2 linked regions of the Homo sapiens genome follow. Each later gene encodes a partner of the first gene's protein in a complex. Links are inferred from orthologs where the notes say so. Each region holds a gene or a part of one and is shown on either strand. Other genes may lie near its edges. The genes, in order: HOMER1 and GRM5.

Region 1 (9,161 bases):
TCAGCCTTGAGCTGAGAGTCACAACATTGGTTTCCCTGGTTCTCAGGCCTTGTAGGCTGAGACTGAATTATGCCGCCAGCTTCCCTAGTTCTCCAGCTTCAGACATTGATTTCTTGGCCTCCATAATCACATGAGCCACGTCCTATAATAAATATCACATCTGTCTCTATGTCTATCAATCATCTACCTACCTGCCTACCTCTCTCTATATATATACCCTATTGGTTCTATTTCTCTAGAGAACCCTAACTAATACAGATACATTTACCATTTCCATTTAATATTTAGAGAAATTAAAATTTAGAACAAGATTTAAAAAAATAAAAAGCCTCATAAATAATTCATGAAATATTTTGGCTGAAACTCTCAAGTGTTGAGAATCTTCATTTATTTCTGATTCTTTTGCTTGGGAGAAACTTTAACACGAGTTCTAGGTCTTGCTTCTGCCTGCTTTAGCCATAAATATAATATCTATCCATTATGTTCTGCTTCAGAGAGTTTGCAATTGCCATCTTAAAGCCCCATCTCTCTTTGAAATGCTCCAGAATTTCTGCCTCAGCCTTGTCTCTCTGAAAAGAAGGCCATTTCCTTCCATAAGAATGATTGTCCTAAATACCTTGTGGGTTGTTTTTGTTTTAGTTGGCACCATAACAGTCACAAAATAAGGTAGTTCATTTAAAACATTTTCCTCATGGTTGTTCTGTTCCCCCATTCAGGAAAAAGACTATTGGTTACCATGGCAATCAGCTTCCACAGCATTCCATTCTAAGTAACTGCACAGGTACAGCACAACCTTTACTCCACATTCTTTACTGTAGTTCTCTGCAGATCTGCGTATTTTTCTAGCCTGTTTTCTCTAACTCCTGCTTAAAACAATCAACCAACCAACCCAGGTTAAGCCAGACAATTTTTTCAAAGGTACCTTATCCCCATCTTTTCTGAATATTTTAAAAATGTTATATAGACAGTTGTACTACCATTTCCTCTAATTTTGTTCTATGTGGGCCCTCAACAGCAGCTAACTGAAAACTTTCTAGTACCCTCTTTCACTATCTAGGATTACATTTGTATCCCTCTGACCATATTTGGAAAATGAATTTACAGTAAAAATCAGAGCAGGAGGTAGTTCTGAGATCATTTCCCATGGCTATCTACCATAGTTTTCCTAAGGCTAATTCTTTAGCTTCCTTTCCTCTACCACTTTCAAACCTCTGTAATAAATTGTCCTCAAGCCTTGCCTTGAAGATGCCAAACACTTGTGTTCCCACCCTTCAGACTGTTTAACTACTTTGCTTCTGTTCAGAACATTACTGACAATAAAAGATGGTCTTATTACAGGCCATACACAACTCAATGGTACCCGGTATCTGCTATATAATGGAGGAAGTGGGATGATTTTGGAGAGTCACTGGATAAATTCTGTTTCCCTGCAACTCTTTCATTCTTATTACGTTTACTCTTTGCTGGTTAGTTTCTTCATGACTATGTATTATAAACTAGGAATTATGATATTTATTTTATATAGAGAGATATCTTTTAACTTATTTTTCAATCTGACTTTATTTGAATTGATAGTGGTATTTTGGTAATTAAAAGCAAGTTGTTATTATCTAATGTAAGGCAATTAAAAATAAAATCTGGCTTTTACTCTCTTTCCTGCAAAGGTTTTCTATCTCTTAGATGTCTTTTCATTGAAAAAGACATATCTCATGACCAGTGTATGAACACCCCATTGAAGATTGCCATCTCCTATTAAGGGCATGGAAATAAACTCTGTAACTAAAACAGATGCCTTCGCCCACAGATTCTAAAATCAGAGGGTATTCATAAACCGCCCTACAAATTTTCAGAGCACAGTGGGAAACAGGAACTGTTAAAATCTGAAACTCTACTAAAGTACTTTCTTCCTCTTCCGGTAAAAGAAAATATATTACTTTCTAGGAAGTTTACTATTTTAAAAAACATACAAAAAAATCAGGGTTGGGAATTCACAACTAAAATTTGGGTTACATCAGCTCATCTTAGGAGAAAAGATATTTATTTACTTACAGATGGAAAGCCATGGAATGCCTCTCTGACTCCTCTTAAAACTGTATTGGAATTGTTTCAAGCAGGGAGAAAAGGCTATTTTTTTCTGAGAAGACATGCCATATTACATAAAATGTTTCAAAGTTTTACATATTCTTTTGACTACATGGACACATGTACTTACTGATCCTGATCCCATATAAGCTGGCAAGAAATTCATACCTATAAGTAATAAATTATAGGTAGAATTTTCTAGATTGAGGCTGAAGTTAAATAATTGCATAAACTTTGAGTAATTATATCACAGTGCACCATTCAATTTATGTAGAAAAAAAGCTGCTCTCAATTTTCAGTTGATAAAAGAGCAGCTGAGAAGAGACGATGTGGTTGTGAAAAGTAGAAACTAACAAAGGGTCAGCACTCTAAAGGCAGGAAAGCAGCTGAAAAGCTGTTTTGACAGTTGGGTAAAGATGAGGGGAAAAAAGACTGTAAATGAGAGGAAGTTGTGATGAAAGGGTAGAATAAAGTGTTTGAAAATGGTAAAGTGAGAGCTTTAATTAACATGGAGAGAAAGAGCAGGAAAGAGAGAAGTTATTTAGTTAGGTAGGAAATTGTTTGTAGAGAAATTTTAGTAGTGTAATAACATAATTTGTATTTTAATTTGCCAAGGGATGACATTATTGGAAGAATGATAGTTTTATTGTTTTAACATTTTAGATATAAGAAGCTCCATTTGTCTGAAATACAAATTGGTACAAGTTTCGATTAATATGATAATAATATACATTAGACAAATTGGCAAGCAGGGATTTGCCTTTCATTAACCTTTTGTTATAACCTTAAAACAAACAAACAAAAAGCAAAACAAAAAAAAACGACGCGGTCGGGCGCAGTGTCTCAAGTCTGTAATTCCAACACTTTGGGAGGCCGAGGTGGGCGGATCACTTGAGGTCAGGAGTTTGAGACCAGCCTGGCCAACATGGTGAAACTCCGTCTCTATTAAAAATACAAAAATTAGCCGGGCGTGGTGGCAAGTGCCTGTAGTCCCAGCTACTCAGGAGACTGAAACAGGAGAATCACTTGAACCTGGGAGGTGGAGGGTGCAGTGAGCCAATATCGTGCCACTGCACTCCAGCCTAGACAGCAGAGCGAGACTCCGCCTCAAAAAACAAAACAAAACAAAACAACGTAAAAAACTAGGGTGAGCGCTGTGGGTAATGCCTGTAATCCCAGCACACTGGGAGGCCGAGGCGGGTGGATCACCTGAGGCCAGGAGTTCGAGACCAGCCTGGCCAACACGGCGAAAACCCATCTCTATTAAAAATACAAACATTAGCCAGGCGTGGCGGCGCGCGCCTACAATCCCAACTACTTAGGAGGCCGAGGCACGTGAATTGCTTGAACCTGGGAGGCAGAGGTTGCAGTGAGCCGAGATCGCGCCACTGCACTCCAGCCTGGGCAACAGAGCGAGACTCAGTCTCAAAAAAAAGACTTAATATTTCAAACTTCAAGCAAGATCATAATTTTATAATGTGAAGATGACCAGAGTGTTTGAATCAGTTACAAATGGGTCTTTTTTGTTGTTGGTGGTGTTCTTTAATCTTGGACTCCTAACTTGAGCAAGAAAATGTAAATACAGAAAGCTGCAAAACCAATGTTCCTTAATTAGGAACCATGTGAGTAGTTTAACATTACAAACAGTTTCTAAAAGTCACACGTGGTATACATTCTAACGAGTTTTAGCTTCTTTTATTTAAACTGCGTTGATATTGATCTATAACTTTCCTAATAATCACTTCATAGGTTGGTAATCCTATGTTTTGGATTTTCCAGGTCACTTCAGATTCAAATATTTTTTCCTAACGTCAAATGGTGTGTCTAGATTTTGGTCTGGAAAACAGGGTCACTAAATTTGTAGACTAACTTGAAACAGTATTGGCCTTTGGCAATACGCAGCAATTCTATTTCTTGGCCATGCTTATCAAGTTAAGTAAAATAAAATCAAAGTTCACTATATGATTTACCTAATTAAAAAATTGTTTTAACCTAATTACTTTAAAATAATTTAAAAACTCTGTAGTAATTTACAATGTAAAAAGCACTCATAATATGGTGTTTATAGACACACATAGCTAGTAAACCTATAGACAGCTACTCACCCTTGCCATACAGAAAATGCAAAACACACTTAAGAGATATTGTAATTACATATTATGTGGTCAAAACTAAAGAAGACGAAAATATGCTTGTGTTAATGAAAAAGGATTTGGTGCTCTTTCTTATTTTTAATTTTTAAATTTTAATTTAAATTCCACAGACTGAAACCCATATACTTTTTCTCTTTCTTGTTTTACTGGCTGGAGCCAAGTGTCATGGAACTCATATTCTTGATGAAGAGAAACTGAGAGGACACACTGGCATTTGCTATACGTGAACTAAGATTGACTCATTTTCCTATGTCAAAACTGCTATTTTGCAAATAAAATTACTATCCTTTATAACATTATTTCGTTTGCTTATTGCTCTGCTCTTTATTCTTTCGTGTTTCAGGTAACCACTAACAAAAAGTTTAAAAGTCGACTATGTCCAGAATGGCACTCTATAATTGAAAATTTAGGTGATTTTTCCGAAGTCCTGTTGGAAGCACATCTACCAGCAGTGTGATCAGGCTCTCCCTCCCACATTTCCCTGCTAGTCAGGACAAGAGAAGCCCGGGGGTGCTGCTGCAATAGCGGTGGGAGTGGGAGATAGGCTATTACCCGCTTGACACTGCACTTTTGCTACGAATGATTCACTCAGGTTTGGCACATTTGTTGCAAGGAAATCTCCTCCTCCCGCCGCTTCCTTGTTCGAGCTCCTCTCGGGCTGTCTCCTGTGCTTTGGCCTTTAAGGAGAAGTGAGAGCAGGTGGGCACACAGGAGCTCGCCGAGTCCTCCTCCCCCTGCTCCTTCCCTAATTTAGCAGTACTTCCGGCCGCGTGACATCATCCCCCGCACCTCGGTGACGTGAGCTGCGGGTGACGTGTGTGCGGAGAGAAGCGCGCTGACGTTGCTATTTAAAGGTCCTCCTGCGGGGAGGATGGAGACACAGCGCGAGCACCTGGTGTGGGGCGCGGAGGAGGCTGTGGCGGTCGGGAGCGGGGCCAAGAGCCAGAGGAGGAGCAGAGCGCACGGCCAGCCAGCCGCCAGCCTCTAGGGGAGGGGGGAAAAGAAGGACGAACGGACTGAGGGCCTGCCGCCGGCCCAGCTCCCCACGAGGGCCGCTCGGCCCCCCACCATCAGCCTCTCCGCCGCCTTGCGGCTGCTGCTTTCTCCCGCGGCCCGCTGCTCGCAAGGCCCGTCGGGCTCCCGGGACCAGTCCGCGCCCCAGCCCCCGGCCGCGGCTCCGCGGCGGCCACCGCCTCCCGTCCCTTCCCGCGAGCAGAGGGAGGGACCGCCCTCGCTCCCCGTTCTCTCCGCCCCCTTCCCGCCCCCCGCAGCCCACTCTGCCGCCGCGCTAGCTTCACGCCGGCGGCGCTGACCGGGAAAGCAGCACCCTCTTCTCTGCCAGCCGGCCGGCCGGCGGAGGCGGAGGCAGCGGCAGGCTTCAGGCCGCCGGGGCTGGCGCTGCTCTGCCCGGCGGTAGCCGGAGGCGGGCGCTGATGGAAGTGTGAAGAGGCGGCGGCGGGGCCCGGGGAATGTGAGGCGGCGCGTGGCGGCGGCGCGGAGCGTGAGAGACGAGGAGTAGGGGTGGGGGCGCTGGAGCGGCGGCTGCGCTTCGGCTTCGAGCCCAGCTCTCCTGGCCCCAACGCGGGCTTAGCCTCCCGCCTTGGCTCGGGCAGGCGCCCGTCGACCCTTCGGCCCCTTTCGCCCGCCCTGGAGCTGGGGGCAGGGTGCCAGTGGAAGCGTGGGGCTTGGCTCTGTGATTCATTCATTCTCCGCCGACGGGAGCCTCAGACCCGCTGTGCTCTGAAGAGAGGAGGGAAGAGGGGGCAGCCGCGAATGAAGGGCCGGGCACCAGCCGGGCTCCATTGTGCTCGGCGGCGGGGGGCGGGAAGGGGCTGAGGGAGGTGGGATCGGGTCCCCTCCTCCAGCTCTCCGGCGTGCGCTGCGCCCCCAGCCTGCTGCCAGCCTGGAAATGGCTCCGTTTATTCTCTTCGGGAGAATGAATCGATCCTGCCTAGCCTTCTCTTCGTCCTCCCCACCTCTTCTCTGCTCCGAGTCTTAGGAGGAGAAACATTTAAAAAGACAGATTCCAATGTGGAGTGCCGTGCAGGTTGCGAGCTGCCGGGTTTGCACTTCGAGGAGATTTTCCTGTGTAGTTTTTTTCCTAATGTGAGCGCAGGGAAGCCGTGGCATTACTGCTTTTGGGATTTTTATTCACGTGCACGTCGCGTTTGGTTGCTCGCTCCACCCCCGGAGACCTGGTGTGGTGGAGAAATTTGAACCCGCAGCCTTAGCTCCGAAAAGGCCGAGTTACCTGGCTCTCCCTGAGTGTCGAGGAGGACATGAGTGAAATGACCAGCGAACTCATTTTTTATAGGACTCGGTGAAGCCGGATTCTGCATTTCCCTACTTGTAGACTCATTTTGTGGAATAGAGTTGATCGCTGTCTCCTCCGCAAAGCATTTTAACTCGAATAAGCAAATGCCGCCTCTGTTTGAACGTTTTGGTATTTACAAGAGAGAAATCATTTTACCTAAGAGAACTAATTGAATTGGCAGCATCCTTGAAATACCTCCGGACAAGGATCTGGGGGTGGGGGTGGAAAAGCAACTGCGAAATAGCAGACGGAGAAATTCCTTTGGAAGTTATTCCGTAGCATAAGAGCTGAAACTTCAGAGCAAGTTTTCATTGGGCAAAATGGGGTAAGGATTTTTGTGCTTAACACAGCTTCGAATCTGTTTATGTATGTGTATTATTGAGCGGTGGTGGTGATTGTGTTTTGTGTTTTCAAACAAACTTGCCACCTTGCTAAGCTGGTCATACTTTAAAGAAATAGGCATGCTAACCTTTTAGGTTATTTTTGCATTTTTGTAGAGCGGTACCAGAGGTCATAATTTAAAAACACATATATCGTTTGTAACTTGAATATGGATTTGTGAGTAATGTTTACAAAGACAACGCATTCTACACTTTACTGGTCAGACTGCTGCATCAGTTTGTAATCAAAATCACATTATTTTAGCTTTTGCTGACGGTTATCTTTCAAAGAGAAGTACTGCATTCTCTCAGTACTTTTAGATAATCAGTTGCACAAAGGAACGATTTTAATGAGTGGTTAGACAACAGTCCTTGAAAGTGATCCAGAGTAAATTGTTGCCCTCACCGTGCCCTCTGTCTTGTCCTTGAATATTCAAAGCTAAAATGTATAGAATTGATTTACTGGGGCGTTAAAACGAAAATCTGAAATTCAGTCTTACTGATGCGGTCACCACGGTACGGGTGCATTTCGTAGGAAAAAGCTTTTTGTTTAAGGAACTTGTTCACTCCTTTTGTTTTTCGCTTTTAAGCTCAGCCCTTCAGTTTGAGTTAACAGTATCAGATCTACACCTTCCTTCGGACCCAGAGCCAACTGAGAGTGCATTTTCCAGTCTTTTATTAACTCTTCACACTGTGGGTTGATGAAATGCTAGTGACACTTCCTAATTTAAGCTGGAAACCCATAATATATTAATGGAGCAATCTGATTTCATTGACAGGTTGTCACTGCTTTTTGGCAGAAGAACTTCCAGAATTTTCTCTTTTTGTGTGTGTGTGGTTGAACAAACACATCTGAAGTGTAGTTGAGGGGCATGTTTTAAAGAATGGACTCTGCAATTCATCGTGATGGTTTAGGTGTGTACACACGCTTGAAACTTTCTGAGGAAAGTTCTTGAATAGTACCTTCCTTTTGGAGTTAGAATTTGAAGTTTAACATGCATAACTTTGAAAATTTAGAGCATGTTGTAGGAGACGTTCCTCAGAAATTAATGACAAAGTTATAATGGTTTTAAAAACTTGAATGACAAGTGATGAGAATATATATAACTTGCATGATTTGGGGGTACCGCTAAGAGTAATTAAAATACCTCATTCTATTTCTAGCGCTGCTATTAGTAGCTTAGTGATCTGAGGCAAATTACTTGACCTCTGTGGACTCTATTTCTTACCTGTAAAATGAACGATTTAGAGATGACTTAAAGATTTCTCCAAACTGTAAAAAACGAATTGCTTTCTTTTTATTCTCCTCCTCATTTTAATGATCACTAGTTGGTTTCTGCAAGTCGATCTTTCTGATGGAGACCTTTTTCACTCTAAGCAGTTTAAGCGCTTAACGCTGAAAAATAATGGCATTTGAAAAATGTTTTGGATGAATTGCACCAATTTTAAATGAGAAAAATACTGAAAAATACTACTGTTCAAAACCTTAGAAATATGGCTTCCCTTGAGCATCTGCAGCTCTGTTTAAAACATGTTGGAGGAAAAAAAATCAAGCAGCAGTTTTTCATGTTGATGGCTGCATTTTGTCTAGACTGTGGAGTAGTAGCATCATGGAAGAAAATCAGTTTTCCAGAACCTTTAAGCTGCATGAATGCCTGTCATTTTACCAAGGGAAGCTTAGGATGAATTTTTTTTTCCCTGCCTGAGGTTTCTTTGTACAAATAGCACAGGAGGACCCCAGCCCCACAGCCCCATGCAGATGGCAGCCTGGCGGGGGGTCGCACCAGTCCTGTCCTCACGTTGGCAGATAGAGATATCTACTCTGAAGCCTCTGTAGGGGCCTGGGCACCTTTGGGAGCCTGAGCTGGAACTGAAGCTGGAGCTGCAGCCTGGGCCTTGGTTTGATCCTTGTCCTTGGCCTTTGGCCAGCACACCCTGAGCCCCTTGGCAATGCGGGCACGAGCATGCTTCCCAAGCTTGGGGTGGACAGTGTAGGCAAGTTGAGCTTGCGGCTGACACCCTTTGGGATCTTGGGCTTAACCTCCTTGGGCTTTAGGAGGGCCTTGATAGCCTTGGCATGTGCACTCATGGCCTTGGCACTGTTAGCCTGCATCTTCTTTAGGCCCTTCTTGTTGTGTTTCTTGGCAAACTGCATGTTCCTCAGGAACTTGGGGTCCACCCCCTTAAGAGATTCGTATCTTTGTGCTTCGGGTTTCTTGATACCATTTCTGT
Region 2 (7,215 bases), on another chromosome or scaffold:
TACTAAAAATACAAAATTAGCTGGGCGTGGTGGCGCATGCCTACAATCCCAGCTTCTCAGGAAGCTGAGGCAGGAGATTCGCTTGAATCCCAGAGGCCGAGGGTGCAGTGAGCTGAGATGGCGCCACTGCACTTCAGCCTGGGCAACAAGAGCAAAACTCCGTCTAAAAAACAAAAAATAAAAAAAAAATCTTGAGTGTCAGGCCACATTCTCTGACCTTTGTAAAGTTTCTGAAAGAACGTCTGCAGCTTCAGAAGCTATTGTGTCAGCTTTTAGTGGTAAGGAGAGGTACTAGGGCGCTGAGGCTGAGGCACCAATCACATCTTGAGAGTGGCTTTCAGACCCCATGGTGGAAGTGCAAAGGAGAAAGAGAGAGAAAGGCCTTCAAAAAACTTGTCAGTCCCTCAATATTCACCAGGATCCTAATTTGAGATCACTCTGCTAAGTGCCGAAGGCATTATACAGCACTCTCACTCATTGAACTGTTATTCAAGTACAGAACTCAAAATACATTTGTGAGGTGAATTTCTGTGAAGTAAAGAAGCTCTCATTAGAAATGTGTGTTCATTAAATTTTTATTTTCCAGCAGGTAAGGCAGCCTAAGTAACACTATGTTCAAAATCAGGGGTTCAGACAGAAAACCCTAGTTATATATATACCAACTTCCAGAATAAAGGCGGAACTGGAACCACTGACTACCTCCTGGTAATCCCTGACTCTCTTACCCCTTCCCTCCTCTCTGATGATTGTTGGTGAGTTTGGGTCCTAGTGGTAATGTTTTCCTTCAGAGGCCACTAACTCTAGGAAGCCCCTGTCCTGTACCAGGCACTTGTGCACACAGCCGGGACACTGCAAGCCCTTGCATCTGTGTGCTGCTGCACTCACAGGTGGGCTCAGAACTCCCGCAGAATCCTAATAAACACTCCTTCATCCTGACAAGCATCCCCTTTGACACATTTTCACGATTATGATAAACTGAAGCCCTGATATAGAAAGCAGTCTTTAACTCAAAACAAGCAAAGGAAAGCCACTTCCAAGGTCTCTTTCCATGATGTCCTTTTGATGCTGTGTTTCCTGAAAGAATGAGAAAAGTCCTCCCCAGTCCGGGGCCCATGAGCAACCACCATTGGGGAAGCGGCATCCAAGCCCCCTGGGCACCTCGCTGAGTCACCTTTCCTCTCCCTTCTCTCCTCAGTTCCAATGGAAAATCCGTCACGTGGGCCCAGAATGAGAAGAGCAGCCGGGGGCAGCACCTGTGGCAGCGCCTGTCCATCCACATCAACAAGAAAGAAAACCCCAACCAAACGGCCGTCATCAAGCCCTTCCCCAAGAGCACGGAGAGCCGTGGCCTGGGCGCTGGCGCTGGCGCAGGCGGGAGCGCTGGGGGCGTGGGGGCCACGGGCGGTGCGGGCTGCGCAGGCGCCGGCCCAGGCGGGCCCGAGTCCCCAGACGCCGGCCCCAAGGCGCTGTATGATGTGGCCGAGGCTGAGGAGCACTTCCCGGCGCCCGCGCGGCCGCGCTCACCGTCGCCCATCAGCACGCTGAGCCACCGCGCGGGCTCGGCCAGCCGCACGGACGACGATGTGCCGTCGCTGCACTCGGAGCCTGTGGCGCGCAGCAGCTCCTCGCAGGGCTCCCTCATGGAGCAGATCAGCAGTGTGGTCACCCGCTTCACGGCCAACATCAGCGAGCTCAACTCCATGATGCTGTCCACCGCGGCCCCCAGCCCCGGCGTCGGCGCCCCGCTCTGCTCGTCCTACCTGATCCCCAAAGAGATCCAGTTGCCCACGACCATGACGACCTTTGCCGAAATCCAGCCTCTGCCGGCCATCGAAGTCACGGGAGGCGCGCAGCCCGCGGCAGGGGCGCAGGCGGCTGGGGACGCGGCCCGGGAGAGCCCCGCGGCCGGTCCCGAGGCTGCGGCCGCCAAGCCAGACCTGGAGGAGCTGGTGGCTCTCACCCCGCCGTCCCCCTTCAGAGACTCGGTGGACTCGGGGAGCACAACCCCCAACTCGCCAGTGTCCGAGTCGGCCCTCTGTATCCCGTCGTCTCCCAAATATGACACTCTTATCATAAGAGATTACACTCAGAGCTCCTCGTCGTTGTGAATGTCCCTGGAAAGCACGCCGGCCTGCGCGTGCGGAGCGGAGCCCCCCGTGTTCACACACACACAATGGCAAGCATAGTCGCCTGGTTACGGCCCAGGGGGAAGATGCCAAGGGCACCCCTTAATGGAAACACGAGATCAGTAGTGCTATCTCATGACAACCGACGAAGAAACCGACGACAAATCTTTTGGCAGATTTTCTTCTAGTGGCCTTAGAAAACATGGGCTTTTAAGAAACACGGCTGATATCTTTGAGGGCTGACAAGGCGTCTCTTCAAACAGTTCCATACCAAGTGCTTTGCTCTAGGGAAGCAGTGCGTGTGAAACAGCGTAACGGAGGGTGAAGAGCATAGTTAATAAGCAACTGTAAAAAGTTTTATTTGTTTACTTTAATTCTTTTCCCAGAAGAGTCTTTGATTCACCAAACATGAATGTACATTTTCTAACAAACTCAAAATCTGGGACCAAAACATCAACTTTTTTCTTTCTTTTTTCTTTCTTTTTGTTTTTTCTTTCCTGTAAAGACCTTGAAAAGCAGTAACTTGGGTCCAGTATTTACGGAGGCGTTGTGAATGTGTCCCATGCATAACACACTACTGGATAGTGAGTGCTGCGCTAATGTACTACGTAGGGCTTCTACCAGAGATTTTCCTCTCCAATTGGGTTGTGAAATACTCTTCCAAAAGCCTGCATCGGGGATTCCACCTACTTATTTCAGATTCACCTCCATTAACCAAGAAAACCAGTGGAAGATTTCTTGACTATTTCACCATGTTGCCAATCAATACTGGAGTAGCAAAAAAAATATTTTCTGGAATACTGTTTTGTAATTCCCTCACTGGGGTGCATTGTAGCTGGAAATTCTCTTTATAAAAATCATTCTTGAGCTCCAGCCTGGCTATCTCTTTCAAGAAACATGGCCACTCTTTAGGAATGCTGTTGCGTTTGCATTGCCAACTAAAATATTAAAATATGCATTGGGGCTTCTTCATTCCTTTATTTTGAGAACCTGATGCACAAAGAGCTCCTTTGTTCTTTTCGAGTCCCACCACTGGAAGAGTGGTCCATAGACCCCATGAAGACATTGTCATGATTTGAGAGACTGTTGTTGAAAGGATTAACACAATCTTAATACACTGAAAATTTTAACTGTGTCAAGTCAGCTTAGTGGAGATTTAGCTATGCCAGTGAGCAGTGATTTTAACTATTCTTGGCTGCTTAAACAGGGCAGCTATGAACTATGACAAATGTAGATTTTTCAAAGCAATACAAAATACTAAAAAAGAGGAACCTTAATGAATATTAACCACACAGTCTTTCTTAGCCATTCCAAAAAGAGGCAAAGCAATTCTTATTTTCTTTTTTAAAATAATGATTAATATGATTTTGTGCACTTCATACTGTCACTTTTTAAAACTACAGAAAAGAGATTTAGAGTATAACAGAAACAAGTGTGCTTTGATAGTCTCAAATAGGTAGAATTCATAGTTCAAGACCTGAATCCACTGTCATCTCTTTCTTCCTCCCATTGCAGCTATCCTCAGGTACCAAATGTTTTGATTTTTAAATAAGGATAGTAATAAATGGAGGAGGTGTCCTATAAATTTAAAGTTCAGTTGACCCAGCCTTATACTTAAGATAGCCTTATGAAAAATATGTGCTGTGAGGCAGAAGTATATTTTGGCAGAGAGAATAATAAATAAAACTTTTTCTTTTAGCTCAATATCCTTACTTTGGTAAGTATTTTTTTTTATTTCACATCTACTTAACAGAAAATAAACTGAGAAATAGAAGTCAGTCCATTGGCATAATTTATCATTCTTCACTTTAAAAAATTCTAATAAATATTCTGCTTGAGTTTTCTTTTCTGCTATTTGTTCTTACTTGCAACTTTAAGTCAAACCTCCCAATACAAAACATTAAAAGCTAACATTAATGTACTAAAGTATTAATTTAAAAGAAATCGAACCTCCCATGCTAGATTTGAAAATAACATCATCACAGCACCCTGATCCCAAATATTACACCGAGGCTTTTAAAATGTAAGTGAAATCTAGCTAAGTTTCATGGTTTCATTAAAAGCAAATGTCTGCCTCTATCTGAAAAACAAATGGAAATCTTTTGAGGTGTTAATACCCTTTGGATCCTCATCAAAAGGATGGCATTCACCTGAGGATTCCTATCTTGACTTCTTAGGTATTAAAAACCTTTCTTGATATGCTCTACATTTTAAAATTTGTTTTATAAAATCCTTATGTTGATTTTCATTTTATTCTCAAGTACAATACGTTTCACTCTAGACCAGTTGAAGAACATGTTTAAACTTTGTTCATGGTCAAATTCATTTTCTATTTTTTTAGTAACATATCTCTTAAAAAGCACACTACCTTATAAAAAACTTCATCAGAAATTAAATTTAATGCAAGTAAATTGCCATCTGATACTTCCACATGCTATCATAATCAACTGTAATAATAAAAATGATTTATCCAATTAGAAAAGGACAAGATATATTTTTCTCTGTATTTCTATAACTTTTGCCACTCCATTGAATACATTGTATGTTGGACATAAGATTATTAGTAATGCATTCTTGAGATCTTTTATTTTGGAATGATGCTAACTCTGTCTCTTTGCCAATTCTAATACCAGGTTCCAAGTAATAACTCTACAGTACAAAGAGAACTGAATATTCATTCTAGGGCTATAGGATATGAACTTCACAATTCATTTGGGTACATTCTCATTGAATTTCCTTCAAAACAATCTGTTCCTGGTGCCCAGTGATAATTCAGTCGGGACCAGCATGACTAAAAGGAAGGGGATATGCTAAGGCTCAGCAAAGTGACCCTAAATGAGAGATATGTCCCAGGATGGAAAGAAGAAGACGTGGTTTAACCAAGTTATACTGACTAATCTAAGCAGTCCACTCATCCTTCCATTTTGGGAAAGGAGTGGGGGCAGCCTAAGAAGAACATATCTGGATTGGGAAGAACCGTCTTTCTGGGCTAGGGATGGGGAACAGAAAGGGAGTATGGAAAGAAAAATTATAAGAGATTTGACTGAAGCAAGGAAAAAAAGCAAATCCCCAAACGTGCTAATCCTTGAAAGTAACTATCTTTCCCAAACTACTGCTGTTACCAGCAAGTGATCAGGAAGACTAGGAGCTATTTCTGACTGTAAATGAATTGTATAATAGCTCTGCTGCAGTTCTGTGACTTCCAAGCCAGGAATTAAATGCTCTTTTTAAGAATAACAAAAAACAAAAGCATTTCCTATGCTAGTCTCCCAGTAAAATGTACATGTTTTGGAGACTTCAAAGGTATTATGTGAGTTCACATTTAGCAACAGCTTATTAATAACCCTCAAGCTGTCAGAATCTCTATAGTTACCATTTACAATTTTATACTGTGAAAAAATACAGATCAGTGAAAGCATAAAGACAAGTCAGAATTCACTTTGAAGAGGGTCTGAGGCCTGGGAGAGTCTCTACTGTCTATTGAAGAATGAGGCATGTATAAAATAGTTGGTTGAATTTCACTGATCTTCCCAATGTGAACAAATATACTATGTATATTGTGTGTATTTCTAGAAATCAATGGCAGCTGCTGATGGTGTTGTAATTAGAAATCTATATAGATTATAGATGTTTTAGAAAGATGGTGCCAATCCTAAAAGATTTGTGTGGGCTAAAAGTGCTTGTACTTACTTTTTTCTGCACTTATAACTGATTTGGTTTTAAAATTGTGTGCGTGTATCTGTTCTTTCTCTGTTGTGGCAGCTTGTACTATTAAAATAATAGAGAATGTTAAATTATTTTGATGTGAACTGCAAATGATTTTTTTTCATAAAGTTTAACATTTTTATCAGCATTGTTTTGCTTTGTACTTGTATAAATATGTTTTATTTTAGCACTTCAAAATATACTTGCCTGTTTCTCAGTTGTCTAAATCATGTTGTACTTGGTGTTTGTGAAGCCAGTTACTTTTCAAAAAAATTAAAAAACCTATAATATGATTTTAAGATTATTCCCCTCAAATGTTTAGAATGTTGTCTTAATAGTGTTTTCTGAGATGAAAAGAGCCATGATACTAATTAATCTTGAATACTGGATGATCTATACATTTGAATTATGGGGTTTACAAAGTAAGCAGTGGACTGTATAGATTTAAATGAAAATATAAACCAACCACAAACCAACCAGAGATGTTGTCCCCAAACACATCTACAAACAACTGTTACATAAAGAAGTACTTAAAAAAATATATAGGAAATATGCATTGTTTATGCATCTAGACATACAAATTATAGAAATAGTTTCATAATTATATGTGTTGATAGAGGTAACATCACACAGATAAAATAGATTATTTGTGTGTGTATAGATGTGTGTTTACAAACATACATATTTATATAGACATTTGACTTTTGAGTCCATCTGCATGTGTCTCTGTGTATATGTGTGTTTGTGTGTAGATGTATGTGCATATTACATAATTTTTCCAGAAAAAAAAAAAGTTTTACTTTGACTGATTCTTGAGCAAATATACATTCCCTGGACACAAATTAGTGAAAAACTAACAGCAGAATATAAGGTAGATGCTTGATGTATGGAAGAGAAAAACAAGGTATATTTAAAAATATATTTGATTTATGCTTCTGACATTGTATTAAATGCATAATGATATATATACATATGTAGATACATATATTATACAGAATGTGTTTGATCTTAACAAAGAAAGCCATTTTATCTGTTTTGTCAGACTCTTCCCTTCAGTATCTTTTATTCTAACGTGATATGAATGGTAATATGTTCACATAAAATTGAGGATGAAGTGACATATACAAACCAGGTACAGGAAATTACCTTCTAAAAATCCAAAGAGCCTTATCAGACTCCATCAAATTATGGAAGGCCATTTAAAACCAGCGGATGCAATAGAAATAGCATTGAATTAAAAGCCAGGATCTCTTACCTGTCACCAACTGACTTTGGATAAATCACTCTGATTTCTCTACAACTTGTTCCTCTTGCTTTAAATGCAGAAGTGAGTTACAATAATCTGTGAAGTTTCTATCATTTCAACATTCCTGATAAATGCTCA

Evidence for each region.
Region 2: the proteins of HOMER1 (region 1) and GRM5 are in contact, whole or in part, in a crystal structure (PDB 1DDV), measured with the Rattus norvegicus proteins. The link is inferred for Homo sapiens from one-to-one orthologs. Residues at the interface, in NP_113895.1 of Rattus norvegicus: His12, Phe14, Trp24, Thr70, Ser71, Gln72, Lys73, Phe74, Gly89, Phe90; in XP_006229721.1 of Rattus norvegicus: Thr1155, Pro1156, Pro1157, Phe1160.

Annotation. Positions count from the first base shown.
Region 1 is NC_000005.10:79,510,483-79,519,643, reverse strand, and holds the start of HOMER1 (homer protein homolog 1), read left to right. Parts: upstream 1-5,509; 5' UTR 5,510-6,869; coding exon 6,870-6,874; intron 6,875-8,626; exon of another isoform or gene 8,627-9,161. UniProt on the Homo sapiens protein: Postsynaptic density scaffolding protein. Binds and cross-links cytoplasmic regions of GRM1, GRM5, ITPR1, DNM3, RYR1, RYR2, SHANK1 and SHANK3.
Region 2 is NC_000011.10:88,503,485-88,510,699, reverse strand, and holds the end of GRM5 (metabotropic glutamate receptor 5 isoform a precursor), read left to right. Parts: intron 1-1,195; coding exon 1,196-2,108; 3' UTR 2,109-6,058; downstream 6,059-7,215. UniProt on the Homo sapiens protein: G-protein coupled receptor for glutamate. Ligand binding causes a conformation change that triggers signaling via guanine nucleotide-binding proteins (G proteins) and modulates the activity of down-stream effectors.